Regions from separate parts of the Homo sapiens genome. Here region 2 is linked to region 1. Evidence: fine-mapped QTL for protein levels in blood plasma. Region 1 holds a variant in brackets. A gene starts in the other region. All regions are shown on one strand. Distances are between the middles of the regions.

Region 1 (2,914 bases):
CAGGCCCCTCTTCTTAACATAAAAATCCTAAGTGTTCATAAACTAAAAAGTAAAAACCGCCAGACCTGTAAGGAGAAACAGACAAACTCACGATTTAAGTGGGAGACATCAACACTTTTCTACAGTAACTGAAGGAAAAAGTAGGCAGGAAATCAGAAAGCTTAGAGCTGACCTGAAAAGCACTCAGTCAATCTAACCTAGTGGCTATTTATATAACACTCTAACCAACAGCAGCAAAATAGTCTTTTTCAGAGCACATGGAACACTTACCAAGATAGACCATATTCTGGGCCATAAAACAAGTCCTACCAAATCTAAAAGAATAGAAATCATACAAAGTAGATTATCAGACTATAATAGAATTGAACTAGGGAGATCCATGGAAAATACCCAGATATTTTAAATAACCATAGGGTCAAAGAGGAAGTCTCAAAAGGAAATTTTAAAATATTTTGAGCCAAATGAAAAATACAATGTAACAAAATTTGTAGGAGGCAGTGCTGGGGGGTGGTATTTATAACACTAAATGCACATATTAACAAAGAAGAAAGGTGATGAAAGAAACCAAGGAAGACTTCAATGGAAAGACAGTGTGTTCATGGATTAGGAGATGCCAGTACTCCCCAAAGTGATCTGTACATTTCACACCATCCCTATCAAAATCCCAGCAGTATCTTTTTGTGGACATGGACAGGATTTTGTGCAACTTATATGAAAGAGAAAATAAACTAGACTAGTTTAAAACAATGTTGAAAAAGAAGACAAAGTTGAAGAAATCAAACTATGTGACTTTAAAACTTATTATAAAGCTTGAGTAATAAAGATAGTGTGGTATTGGCAAAGAGAGACACATAGACCAATGGAATAAAATTGAGTCCAGGAATAAACTCACACAAATATAGACATTTGATGTTTGACAAAGATGTAAAAGTTACTAAGTGGAAGACAGTCTTTTCAACAAATAGTGTCAGAACAATTGATCATCTGTATTTGCCATAAATACAAAGGGCAAAGGAGAAAAAAAGAACCTTGATCTAAACCTCACACCTTACACAAAAATTAACTCAAAGTGGGTCATAAATTCAAATATAAAATGTAAAACTATAAAACTTTAAAAGAACACATAGAATGTCTTCATAGGCTAGGGGTAAGCAGAGTTCTTAGAAATGACACCAAAGTTATGATTCTTTTTAAAAACTGATAAATGTGACTTCATCTAAATTAAAAATGTTTGCTTTGACAAAGACACTTCCAAGAGAATGGACAAGCTATATATGCAAAGAAAAAAAAATTTTTTTTTTGAGATGGAGTCTTGCTCTGTCACCCAGGCTGGAGTGCAGTGGTGTGATCTCGGCTCACTGCAGCCTCTGCCTCCCAGGTTCAAGCAATTGTCCTGCCTCAGCCTCCCAAGTAGCTGGGACTACAGGTGTGTGACACCATGCCTGGCTAATTTTTGTGTTTTTAGTAAAGATGGGGTTTCACCATGTTGGTCAGGTTGGTCTCGAACTGCTGACCTCAAGTGATCCACCCGCTTCAGCCTCCTAAAGTGCTGGGATTATAGGCATAAGCCACCATGCCCGGCCAAGAAAATATTTT[C/T]AAATCACATATCCAACAACAGACTTGTATCCTGAATCTATAAAGAACTCTCAAAACTCAACAATACAAAAACTCAGACAAGATGACACCTAAGGAAGCTCCTGCCTCTCCCAAAGCTGAAACCAAAGCAAAAGCTTTGAAGGCCAAGAAGGCAGTGCTGGAAAGCATCCACAGCCACACACAAAAAGGAGTATCTGCACTTCACCCACCTTCCAGCACCCCAAAACACTACAGCTCTAGAGACAACCCAGATATCCTCAGAAGAGTGCCCCCAGGAGAAACAAGCTTCATCACTCTGCCCGATTCCCTGAGCATTGAGTGTGCCATGAAGAAGACAGAAGATAACAACACACTTGAGGTCACCGTGGATGGCAAAGCCAACAAGCACCAGAGCAAACAGGATGTGGGGAAGCTCTGCAACACTGATGTAGCCTGATCAATCAGGCCCAATGGAGAGAAGGCGTGTGTTTGACTGGCTCCTGCTTATGATGCTTTGGATGTTGCCAACAAAATTGGAATCATCTAAACTGAGTCCAGCTGGCTAATTCTAAATGGACATCTTTTCACCAGTAAAAATAAAAAACAATTTGAGTGGGCAATAATTTGAGGATACTTCACTGAAGAGGATATATAGGTAGCAAACAAGCATATGAAAAGATGTTCAACCGGATATGCCATTAGGGAAATGAATACTAAAACTATGAAGAGATACCAATACACATCTATCATGAATAAAAAGTGCTTTCATGGATAAAACAAAGAATACTGACAATTCAAAGTGCTAATGTGGATGAGGAAAAACTAGAATTTTCATATATTGCTGGTGGGGATGCAAAATAGGAAAGCCACTCTAGAGAACAGTTTGGCACTTTCTAAAATCAATTGCATTTTTATACGCCAGCATGAACAATTAGAAAATGGGATTTAAAAACAGGTAACATTTATAACAGCATCGAAAAAGTCAAGTACCTGGGAATTAGTATAACACAAGATGTAGCATACATCTCTGTCTGGTAAATTATAAAACTTCTCTGAGAAACGCTAAGGAAATTTTCAATAAATGCACATCTGTAACCATGTTAATGGACAGGAAGACTCAAAATTGTAAAGATGTCAAAGCCCTCCCAATTCCACTCATCCCAACGGGGTGTTGTGTTGCCGAGCTTGCTAAGAGGTTTCTAAAATGTACACGGAAATATAAGAGACCAAGAACAGCCAAGACAATCTTGAAAAAGAATAAGGACCTGCTCTACCAGGTAACAAAATAATAAAGTTAGGGTGATTAGGCCAGGCATGGTGGCTCACGCCTGTAATCCCA
Region 2 (2,914 bases), 16 Mb after region 1:
GTTATCCCAATAATTTAAGAGGCTGACGTGGGAGGATCACCTGGGCTCAGGAGTTTAAGACCAGCCTAGGCAACACAGTGAGACCCCATCTCTACAAAAAATAAAAAATTAGCCGGGTGTAGTGGTACTCAGGAGGCTGAGGTGGGAGGATTGCTTGAACCCAGGAGGTCAAGGCTGCAGTGAACCATGATCATGCCACTGCACTACAGCCTGGGCAACAGAGAAAGACCCTGTATCAAAAAAAAAAAAAAAAAAAAAAGATAGCAGCATGTCTTCCTGCTCCATTCCCTTTCCCATCCATTCGGTCACCCTAACTAACCCAGCATCCAGATGTCTGCCTCCCAGGTCCAGCTCTGTTAGCCTGGGGCGGGGATTAGCACACTTATTCTGTAAACAGCCAGATAGTAAATTTTAGGTTTTGCAGACCAAGAGGCTGATAGAATATGTTGTACAAGTACTTATATAACAAGACAGAAAATACTTTTCCACAAATTTGTCATTAGGGAAATTTCAAACATAATGATTGAGTACAATTTGTTTGTAATACGGGTTTACAAATGAGACAAATAGAATTCTTTGGGGGTGGTGCTCCCTATCATCAAATCGATTATCAGTGTTCATCTTCAATCTCTAGCTGGCAGGTTGTGCAAAAACAGGTCGTGGGCCATATCGGGCCCCCAGGCCACTGTTTGCTGACTCCTGACCTAAGAACCACCGTCGTGGGGCACGTCCAGTCCTGCTCTGAATTCCAGCCTCCCTTCTGAGCACCTAAATGGCTTCTTCCCCCGGTGTCACAACGATGATTTGCCCAACAGTGAAGTTTCTATACATTCTTAATTAGATAATTTCCTTCCTATGCAGCTCTCAAGTATTTCCTTCCCTTTTGAGGAGAATTTCATTTTCCACAACATATAAGCATAAAAGGTAACAAACTCAAATCATTTTCATTCATCAGTCATTCAACAAACATTTGCACCCGGGACCTTGGAAAATAGAACCGGAGGCAAAGTGGAGATGGTGAGAGGGGATCCAGGAGGAAGCACTCAGGAAAGGGGTCTCACACCTGCTGCGCACCCTGAGCCATGTCACTTCTCCTCCCTGGGCCTCCGTCTCCTCATGTGTGAAGCAAGGGGACCGGCAAGCAGCCTTGCACAGTCCATGAATGTGGTCATTCATCCAGGCTTCCCTGGCCAGCCTGTCTGGGTCTAGCTGTTCTCCCTGCTTCTTCTTGAACCCTTTCTCCTTCCCCAAATCCCCTTTGCCTCTCCCCAGACTGACTCCTACATATTCTGGGCCCTCTATTTATGACAGACCCAAAAGTTACCCTCCTCCCCACCCAGAGTCCCCCACCCCACCCCCATGCACCTGTTAACAGAAGGACTCTGAGAGCCATGGCTGGAAGGAGCCAGAACCTGGAAGGAGGTGAACCAGGGGTTGCAGGCACCACTGAGGAACCACAAGGAAGCCACCAAAGCAAAGAAGGGCAGAAAAGGAGAAGTAGGAGGCAGAAGTCTATCAGAGATTCAAAGGAAGAGGGCGGAGGCTCAGTGAGCACATAGCCCTGCCTGGTCTTCCGCCCAGGACTGCCCACAGCCTGCCCACCCTTCCTCCCCAGCTTCCTGACCCAAACTTTCAAAGTCAATACCACTATCCAAAAGGTGCCATTTGTCACCCACTTGTTTCTTGGGTTGGCCCAAGCATATGAACAAGCTGAACAGACTTAGCCTGCCTCCTGGAATTCGTGTTCTAAACATTAATACGGGCCAGGCGCAGTGGCTCACGCCTGTAATGCCAGCACTTTGGGAGGCCAAGGCAGGAGGATTGCTTGAGCCTGGGAGTTTGAAACCAGCCTGGGCAACATAGAGAGACCCTGTCTCTACAAAAAAATATTTTTAATTAGCTGGGCATGGTGGTGCGCGCCTGTAGCCCCTGCTACTGGACAGGCTGAGGTGTGAGAATTACTTGAGCCCGAGGTCCAGGCTGCAGTGAGCTAGGATCACACCACTGCACTCCAGCCTGGGCAACATAGGGAGACCCCGACTCTACAAAAAAATACATTTAAAAAATTAGCCAGGCATGGTGGCACATGCCTGTAGTCCTAGCTACTCCAGAGGCTGAGGCAGGAGGATTGTTTGAGCTCAGGAGTCTGAGACTGCAATGAGCCTCAATAATGCCACTGCACTCCAGCCCAGGTGACAGAGTGAGACTCTGTCTCAAAAAAAAAATTAAATAAATAAATAAGCAAACATTAATACAGATCAAACAAGTGTAGGAGGTAAAACTCTGTGTCTTCCTGAAAACACACTTTGCAAAATGTCCCTCCTTCAGCCCATGGAAATGGAAGCGCCCTTCAGCCAGAGCTGTCCTCATTTGTAGCCATCAACAAAGACAACTCAAGTACAGGCATACCTGGTGCTTTTTAAATATTATTTTGTGCTTTTTTTAGAGACAGAGTCTAGCTCTGTTGCCCAGGCTGGAGTGCAGTGGTGTAATCACAGCTCACTGCAGCTTCAATCAACCTCCTGGGCTCAAGCGATCCTCCTACCTCAGCCTTCCGAGTAGCTGGTACTACAGGCACATGCTGCCATGGCCAGCTAATTTTTTTTAAATTTTTTGTAGAGACAAGATCTTGCTATGTTGTTCAGGCTATTCTCAACCTCCTGGACTCAAGTGATCCTCCTTCCTCAGCCTCCCAAACTGCTGAGATTACAGGTGTGAGCCACTGCATCCAGCCTATTTTTGTGTGTGTGTGTGTGTGTGTGTGTAAAGGCCTCAAGCTCTTCACCCAAGAATTTTCACTTCTAGTAATTTATCCTAAGAATAGTTAAGAAGTGTAGTCAAAAATATATGTACAAACTTGGCTGGGTGCGGTGGCTCATGCCTGTAATCCTAGCATTTTGGGAGGCTGAGGCGG

Which allele goes with the higher level. Positions count from the first base shown, and alleles are read on the strand shown. Strength reflects both the effect of a copy and how common the allele is.
In carriers of allele T in region 1, the plasma level of the protein whose gene starts at base 1,483 in region 2 tends to be lower than with C alone (weak association).

Evidence for each region. PIP is the posterior inclusion probability: the model's chance that the variant is causal. The UK Biobank Pharma Proteomics Project read protein levels with antibody pairs (Olink). The fine-mapping took linkage between variants from a reference panel, not from the people measured, so its PIPs are less certain.
Region 2: it holds the start of ITGAM, and the variant in region 1 is fine-mapped to the plasma level of the ITGAM protein (UK Biobank, PIP above 0.99).

The regions. Positions count from the first base shown.
Region 1 is chr16:47,149,340-47,152,253 of GRCh38, reverse strand. The region is part of intron 1 of ITFG1-AS1 (ITFG1 antisense RNA 1); the gene reads right to left. It also overlaps the pseudogene RPL23AP72. Among named protein-coding and RNA genes, the nearest start is that of ITFG1-AS1, 6.7 kb to the right of the region's middle. The variant C/T (reference allele first, on the strand shown) is at 1,597.
Region 2 is chr16:31,258,544-31,261,457 of GRCh38, reverse strand. ITGAM (integrin subunit alpha M) reads right to left here and starts at 1,483. Exons shown (of 30, transcript NM_000632.4): 1 at 1,366-1,483. The coding sequence starts at 1,393. RefSeq lists an enhancer at 1,627-1,726.